2 separate regions of the Homo sapiens genome follow, and region 1 is linked to region 2. The links come from fine-mapping of genetic effects on gene expression. A gene starts in region 2. The other region holds a variant in brackets. All regions are shown on one strand. Distances are between the middles of the regions.

Region 1 (4,390 bases), 22 kb before region 2:
CCATGGTATGCAGAACAGGATCAATGTCTTCCTCCCACTGTAGCATGTGTGGTGGGAATAATCGTGCTACTTTTTCTCATGCAATCTGCGAACTGCTCCGTGCCTCAGTTTCCTCACCTGTAAAATGGGTTCACAGTAGCTACCTCCTGGTAGTGTTGTGAGGATTAACTTTTTTTTTTTTTTTTTTGAGAGGGAGTCTCGCTCTGTCACCCAGGCTGGAGTGCTGTGGTGCGATCTCAGCTCACTGCAGCTTCCACCTCCTGGGTTCAAGCGATTCTCCCGCCTCAACCTCCCGAGTAGCTGGGATTATAGCTACCCGCCACCACGCCCGGCTAATTTTTGTATTTTTTAGTAGAAACGGGCTTTCGCCATGTTGACCAGCCTGATCTCAAACTTCTGACCTCAGTTGATTCACCTGCCTCAGCCTCCCAAAGTGCTGGAATTACAGGCATGAGCTACCACATCCAGCCTAATTTTTTTTTTTTTTTTTTTGAGACAGGGTCTCACTCTGTCAACCAGACTGGAGTGCAGTGGTGTGATCATGGCTCACTGCATGTCCCAAAGGTCACTGTAAGTCTCCCAAAGATCTAGGATTACAGGCATGAGCCACTGTGCAGAGCCTCATACTGTGGACGTCTTAGTAGGTAGCATTATAACATTTAAGTGACATTTTTAGCAATAGTAACTGATTTTTTTTGGTTTCTCTTGCACTTTTGTGCTACTCGGTAGCCTTAATCTGCATCCAAACAACATAAGAATTCATTGTTCCAGGAAAAGAAGGAAGGAAGATGAAAAGTAGGTTTCCTAGCTTTGGTATTTCAAAAGCCCAGGCTTTTGACACGCTGCCTCATATCTGTAATCCCACCACTTTAGCCAAGGAGGGAGGATCGCTTGAGACTAGGAGTTCGAGATTAGTCTGGGCAACATACTGAGACCCCATATCTACAAAAATTTTTAAAAATTAGCCAGACGTGGTGGTGCGTGTCTATAGTCCCAGCTACTCAGGAGGCTGAGGTGGGAGGATCCCTTAAGCCCAGGAGTTCAAGGCTGCAGTGAGCTATGAATGCACCACTGCACTCCAGCCTGGGCAGCAGAGCAAGCCTCTGTCCCGGAAAAAAGTCAAAATCCCAGGTCTTTGGAAGAAAAGAAAGGACTTATGACAGAGATAAAAGATAGGGAAGAAAATATAGTTAGAAGCAACTCCTCTCCAAACAAATTGATGGTGAAAGAAATTAGACTGGTGGTTGCAAGTAGGGGGCAGGGAGGGATTAACTAGAAAAAGGATATGAAAAAACTTTCTAGGGTGGTGGAAAGATTATAAATATTGGTTAGTTTGACAGTTACACAGGTGTACGCATTTGTCAAAGTTCACTGAACATACATCAAAGATCTGTGCATTTTACTATATGCAAATCACATCTAACTCACCCAACTTACCACCAAACCAAGATTCCTTAAAATGTGGGGAGGTGGCCGGGCGCGGTGGCTCATGCCTGTAATCCCAGCACTTTGGGAGGCCAACACAGGTGGATCACCTGAGGTCAGGAGTTCGAGACCAGCTTGGCCAACGTGGCAAAACCCCATCTCTACTAAAAATACAAAAATTAGCCAGGCGTGGTGTCATGCCTGTATTCCCAGCTACTCGGGAGGCTGAGAGAGGAGAATTGCTTGAAACCAGGAGGTGGAGGTTGCAGTGAGCTGAGATCGCGACAGTGCACTCCAGCCTGGGCAACAAAAAGCGAAATCCCGTCTCAAAAAAAAAAA[T/AT]GTGGGGAGGTCAAAGTGCTGGGATTACAGGCGTGAGCCACCATGCCCAGCCCATTTTAGACTTTTTGACTGCCAGGTGATCTCAGTTAGCTAATGAGTTTAGAAAAAGTTATGATTTTGTAGTTATTCTGGCTATTGTTGCTGTTTGGGTGTGAGTAACACTCGCCCCAGCTTTCCACATCCTGGAATTCTTTGTGTTTTAAGAATTTTTTACTATAATCTATTTCATGTGTTCTACTATAGGCAATGCCAATTGATGTTTGCTTTTATTTATTTGCAGTTTTGATTTCTTCTTTAATCCAAAGTTATCTGGTGACTTTAAAAAAAAAATTTTTTTTTTGAGTCAGAGTCTTGCTTTGTCTCCCAGACTGGAATGCAGTGGTGTGATCCCAGCTCACTGCACCCTCCGCCTCGCAGGTTCAAGCGATTTTCCTGCCTCAGCCTCCTGAGTAGCTGGGATTACAGCCACGCGCCACCATGCCCAGCTCATTTTTGTATTTTTAGTAGAAACAGGGTTTCACCATGTTGGCCAGGCTGGTCTCAAACTCCTGACCTCAGGTGATCTGCCCACCTCGGCCTCGCAAAGTGCTGGGATTACAGTCGAGCCACTGCAGCCGGCCGACTTTAAACATTCTTAAGGTGATTGAAATTTTTGTAAAAGAAAATATTTCTGTCGTTATAGCATTGTGGTCAAAGAATGTGGGTAATAAAATTTCTGCTTTGATGGAAAAAAAAATGTGGGGAGGTAAAGTCACCATGGGAAGGAAATAATAAATGTGTAGACATGGCAGGCCCCAGAGAGAAGAATCTGGTATCTCATTTCCGGTGAGCTTTTCAGGTGATGGTAAAAACCCCAGATGGGTTTGGAGACTCTAAAAAGCAGAAGGGACCTGGGGACTATTTCCTGGGTAAAGCCCCAGGGAGGTGTCAGAAAATCAGAGAGCGGAAAGGTCTTCCTGTCCCATCAGACTAGATGGAGGCTTAGAAGGCCTCACAGTGTCTTAGACCCCAGAATGGGATAGGAGGAGCAGAAAGATCTCTTGTGCCCAAGAACAGCAGGAAAAGACCTCCAGGCCCAAAAGGCTTTGCTGATGGAAGAGTGGGATGCCTCAGGGGCAGCCTAGATGGCCCAAAGTCTGAGCCCCAGAAAACCAGAAGACTCTTTAACATTTAGAGAGTCCTTGCTATTTCTAGGCACCAAAATCAGAGCAGTTTAAGAAGAGGGAACTCATATGTCTTGGTCATCACTGGATCCCCAATATGTAGAATAGTCTCCAGCACATAGTAGGTGCTCAGGAAATGTTGGTTGAATTAATGAATTAAGAAGTGAGCTATGGGTTAGGGCACGGTGGCTCACTCCTGTAATCCCGGCACTTCGGGAGGTCAAGGGGAGCAGATCACTTGAGATCATTAGCTAGAGAGCAGCCTGGCCAACATGATGATACCCTAACTCTACTAAAAAAAAAAATACAAAACTTAGCTGGGAGTGGTGGCACGTGACTATAGTCCCAGTTACTTGGGAGGCTAAATCAGGAGGATTGCCTGAACCTGGGAGATGGAGGCTGCAGTGAGCCAAGATCATGCCACTGCACTCCAGCCTGGGCAACAGAGCAAGATCCCATCTCAAAAAAAAAGTGAGCTATACTACTTTGCACAGATTGTCTCATTGGATCCTTATCATGACTCACTGAAGCAAGTATTATCATTATGCCCATTTTGTAGATGAGAAAACTGAGGCACAGAGGGGTTAAGTAACCTTCCCAGGATCATTCAGTCTGTAGATGTCCCAGTAGATACCAGTTTGGAGTAAAGACAGCAAAGACCCGATGTGTGCTCCCTTCCACCTTGACCCCACAAAAGCTGTCCCCATTTAGAAGTAAAATGGGAGAACCCAATTGACTGAGAGTAAATGTACACCATTCTAGCAGAATGAGAACTCAAGAGAGAAACTAAAATGAGTAATTTAAAGGAAATGTAGTTGTATTTCTTGTGAAACTGAGTTAGGGAATATGATTTGCACCTGCCTCATTTACATTACCTAATTTAACTCCTTCAAAAGCCCTGTTTTGGCCAGCCACGGTGGCTTATGCCTGTAATCCCAGTACTTTGGGAGGCCAAGGCAGGTGGATCACCTGAGGTCAGGAGTTCGAGACCAATCTGGCCAACATGGAGAAACCCCATCTCTACCAAAAGTACAAAATTAGCCAGGCATGGTGGTGGGCGCCTGTAATCCCAGCTACTCGGGAGGTTGAGGCGGGAGAATCACTTGAACTCGGGAGGCAGAGGTTGCAGTGAGCCAAGATCATGCTGCTGCACTCCAGCCTGGGCAACACAGCAAGACTCCATCTCAAAAAAAAAAAACTGTTTAACTACTCATACAAATAATGCTATGAAACAGAGGGATAAAAAACAGAAGGGACACGACATACAGGAAAATAATAAGATGATAGACCTAAATCCAACCCAATCAGTAATTATATTAAATGTAAACGGTCTAAAAATACCAATTAGGCTGGGTACAGTGGCTCATGCCTGTAATCCCAGCACTTTGGGAGGTGAAGGCGGCAGATCACTTGAGGTCAGGAGTTCCAGACCAGCCTGGGCAACATAGCAAAACCTCATCTCT
Region 2 (4,390 bases):
GTTTGATTGAAAGGAGAAGGGATGGAAGGGGATGGAGGGGATTTTAAAAAACAAAAACAGTTGCGTTTCAGGATGGGGATGAAGATGAGGTGGGGTTTGGATTAGAATTGGTGTTGGGATGGGGTGGGATGGGATGGAAAATGGGTTGGGGACAGGGATGGATGTGGGTAAGGTCATGATGTGGTTAGGATGAAGAACAGAGTCCTTGCCAGGTTTGGGAATGGGGAAGGAGTCGAGGCTGGGCTATAGTAGAGAGGGTGATGAAGTTGGATTGGAGAGTGGATGCTGGGCTGCATGTGGATGTGGGGACAGGACTGTGCTTTTGGAGCAGACGTGGCCCTGAAGAAGGGAATGGGATTGGTTGGTCATATATGTAGACCCAGGGCTTGAGGGTCACATTAGGACCATAAATTGGAAATGGGGCAGTGAAACAACACAGCACAGGTCACCTCCTACCTCAGGCAAGTCCCACCATATTTCTGGACCTCCCAGGTGGCCCCACTTTGGACTCAGAGATGGGGGATATACAGCCTCAGCCCTCACAGAATGGCTCCTGTCTAAGGTCACCAGGACCAGGCCATCAGCATATCTCAGGGATTTTCTGTTTTGGGCCTCCGGGATCTCTCATGGCCTCAGGGTCCCTGGTGGCAGTAAACTCAGGAATACCTCAAAAACCTCCGGTTTCATTTTCTCTATTTTTTTAGAAGTGGAGTCGCGCTATGCTGCCCAAGCTGGAGTGCAGCGGCTACTCACAGGAGCAGTCGCACTACTGATCAGCTTGGGGGTGTCGAACTGCTCCGTTTCCAACCTGGAAACCCCTCCTCAGACACCTTAGGCAACCTGGTGGTCCCCTGCTCCCAAAACATCACCATATTGATGCCAAACTTAGTGCAGACGCCCGATCGCCTAGTTCACAATCGCCCAGAACTCCTGGGCTCAAGTGATCCTACTGACTCAGCCTCCCAAGTAGCTGGGACTACAGACATGTGCCACCACACACGGCCCAAACCTCTATTTTTTTTTTTTTTTGGCAGAGATAGGGTCTTGCTATGTTGCCCTGGCTGGTCTCAAATTCCTGTCCTCAAGCGATCCTCCCACCTTGACCTCCCAAAGTATCAAGACTACAGACGCACACCACTGCAGCTGGCCCAAACCTCCACTTTAACAACCACTTATCAGTCTCTTGTTGAACCCTGTGCTATGCCTTGGGTTTGAGATCCAAGTCTAAATAAAACCTGGGCTTTGGGTAGAAAGGTGAGGAGACTGGGAGCCCACAGTCCACTCCCAGTTTCTCAAGCACCAGCTTTTGTAACTCAGAGACTTTGCACCTAACTGTTCTCTCCTGGACTTCTCTTCTTAAGATATGTCTACTCATCCCTCAAGCCCCACCCCAAAGTCCCTTCCTCTATTTGAGCCCTCAGTCCCCCAAGGATTTTGCCAATCTCCTGACCCCTCCTCTCTCACCCTGCTCACCAAGACTGTGCCCAAACCCACCTCCGCCATCAGACTGACAGGTCGTCCTGGGCAGGGTGTGGGTTCCACAGTGCCCGGCATGGGCTGGATACAGAGGAGACTGACTATGTGTCTACAATGCCCAACCAATGCCCACTGGAGACCCCATTCCCTGTATTCCCCCAGGTCACACTCCAAAAAGTCCTCTTACCTGGCTTGGGAGGAAGGTCCTTGTAGGGAGGTGTTGAGTTCTCATAGTCATCATCCTCCTCCTCCTCCTCCATGGTCCCTTCCAGGGGAAAGGCAAGTCAGAGCCCAGCCATTCCCTCCTCCCTCCATCCCTCAAGCCCTGGTCTCTGCCTCAGCTGCCCCATGGTGGGGATTCTGTACCCTGGGTCCTGACCACACCTAGGCCCCAGCCCCAGCCTGGCCGGGGCCTTACCTGGTGGGTCCGGGTACCCAGTGATGGAATACAGATTATGCATGTCTAGCACAGGGAACCTGACAAGTGGCAGCCAGGGCTTGGCAACCTCTGCCCCCTGTCTCTCCGACTCAGGCGTCTGGGGGCTCTCTCAGTTCCCTTTTCCTTTCAAAGTCAAATACATGCAAATTCATTTTGACAGGAAGCCCTCAGACCTCACACGTGCTCACACAAACACACACACACACACACACACACATACACACAGAGCCTTTCTCCCCAGTTTGGATTCACGCACAGAAGGAATAATGACAACTGGCCTGGTGTGGTGGCTCTCGCCTGGAATCCCAGCACTTTTAGAGGCTGAGGTGGATGGATCACTTAAGGCCAGGAGTTCGAGACCAGGTTGGCCAACATGGTGAAACCCAGTCTCTACTAAAAATACAAAAATTAGCCAGGCGCAGTGGCAGGCGCCTGTAATCCCAGCTACTCAGGAGGCTGAGGCAGGAGAATCGCTTGAACCTGGGAGATGGAGGTTGCAGTTAGCCGAGATCACGCCACTGCACTCCAGCCTGAGTGACAGAGTGAGACTCTGTCTCAATAAATAAATAAATTAATTTTTTAAAAAACATTAAATATTAATTAATTAATTAAGGGTCTTGAGATGGATGGTTTATCCTGGATTACCTAGGTGGGCCTTAAATGGCTTTACAGGCCAGGCATCGTGGCTCACGCCTGTAATCCCAGCACTTTGGGAGGCCGAGACAGGCAGATCACGAGGTCAGGAGATCGAGACCATCCTGGCTTACACAGTGAAACTCCGTCTCCACTAAAAATACAAAAAATTAGCTGGGTGTGGTGGCGGGTGCCTGTGGTCCCAGCTACTCGGGAGGCTGAGGGAGGAGAATGGCGTGAACCCAGGAGGTGGAGCTTGCAGTGAGCCGAGATCGCACCACTGCACTCCAGCCTGGGTGACAGAGCGAGACTCCGTCTCAAAAAAAAAAAAAAATGGCATTACAAGGGTCCTCGTAGAAGGGAAACAGAAGGAGATTTGACACAAAAAAAAGGCAATGTGGTCACTAAAGTTATGCTGGCTTTGAAGATGCAAGAAGGAGCCATATGCTAAAGAATGCAACTGCAGAGGCTGGAAACAGCAAGAAAATGGATTCTCACGCTGCAGCCTCTTAAAGAAGCATGGCCCAGCCCATGAACACCTGGGTTTCAGCAGTGAGACTGATGTTGGTCTCCTGACTCCAGAACTATAAAATAATCTGGCCGGGTGCAGTGGCTCACACCTGTAATCCCAACACTTTGGGAGGCCGAGGTGGGTGGATCACGTGAGGTCAGGAGTTTAAGACCAGCTTGGCCAACATGGTGAAATCCCATCTCTACTAAAAATACAAAATTAGCCAGATATGGTGGCGCGCACCTGTAATCCCAGCTACTCAGGAGGCTGAGGCAGGAGAATCGTTTGAACTCGGGAGGTAGAGGTTGCAGTGAGCCGAGATCACATCATTGCACTCCTGCCTGGGCAACAAGAGTGAAACTCCATCTCAAAAAAATAAAATAAAATAATCCATATAATCCATTTCTGGCCAGGCGCGGTGGCTCACGCCTGTAATCCCAACACTTCGGGAGGCTCAGACAGGTGGATCACTTGAGGTCAGGCATTCGAGACCAGCCTGGCCAACATGATGAAATCCCATCTCTACTAAAGTTACAAAAAAAAAAAGAATAGCTGGACATGATAGCGGGCACCTGTAATGCCAGCTACTCGGGTGGCTGCGGCAGAAGAATCGCTTGAACCCGGGAGGCGGAGGCTGCAGTGAGCCAAGATCTCGCCACTGCATTCCAGCCTGGGCAAAAGAGCAGGACTCTATCTCAAAATAGTAACAATAATAATAATTATTATTTCTGTGGTTCCGAGTCACTCAATTTATGAGTAATTTGTTAGAGTCACTATAGGAAACTAATATGTACCCCAAGGGGCAAGACCCCAATTTCCCTTTGTAGAGGTTTTTACTAAAAGTAAGAGGAAATGCAACTCAGATTGGCTTCAACAACAAGGAACATTCATCAGGCCCATGGGGAACATTAGGTTGGGTTTCCATAACTGAGACTCAGAACAAGAGTGTCTCAAACAAAATAGAATGTATTTCTTACCTGACAGGCTCAGTATAAGCAAGTGAGAGCCTCTAACAAATGGAAAAACCTTCCCCCGCACCGCACGTGGGCAATGGGGTAGCCCCGGTCTTAATTGAGGTAGGAGGGCAGCAGCAGATTAACCTCCCTTTCCATTCAAAGCTGACTCTAGGGGCTGGGCTTTCCCCTCTTACATGGCCTGATGTCATAGAGCCTTCCCAGCCTGTAGGAGGGCAAACGTGACTGTACCCATTCCAACCTGTAGGAGGGCAAATGTGACTGTACCCATTCTAGAGATGGGAAAATGGAGACCTGTCTGAGAAGGAAGAAAGAGCCCGTCTGTTCAGCCAACATCTGCTAAGCACACACAAGCTA

Evidence for each region. PIP is the estimated chance that this variant, and not a neighbour inherited with it, causes the effect. A credible set is the group of variants that fine-mapping cannot tell apart.
Region 1: its variant is the best candidate, but not a certain one, in a credible set for the expression of CLEC17A in whole blood (INTERVAL, PIP 0.72).

What each region holds. Positions count from the first base shown.
Region 1 is chr19:14,602,477-14,606,866 of GRCh38, reverse strand. All of the region lies in intron 12 of CLEC17A (C-type lectin domain containing 17A), which reads right to left. It also overlaps a transcript of ADGRE3 not described here. Among named protein-coding and RNA genes, the nearest start is that of SNORA104, 18 kb to the left of the region's middle. RefSeq lists an enhancer at 2,733-2,982. The variant T/AT (reference allele first, on the strand shown) is at 1,765.
Region 2 is chr19:14,580,708-14,585,097 of GRCh38, reverse strand. It overlaps CLEC17A (C-type lectin domain containing 17A), which reads right to left and starts at 2,014. Exons shown (of 14, transcript NM_001204118.2): 1 at 1,895-2,014; 2 at 1,664-1,741. The coding sequence starts at 1,937. It also overlaps the pseudogene RN7SL337P. RefSeq lists enhancers at 1,730-1,899, 4,341-4,390 and a silencer at 2,241-2,384.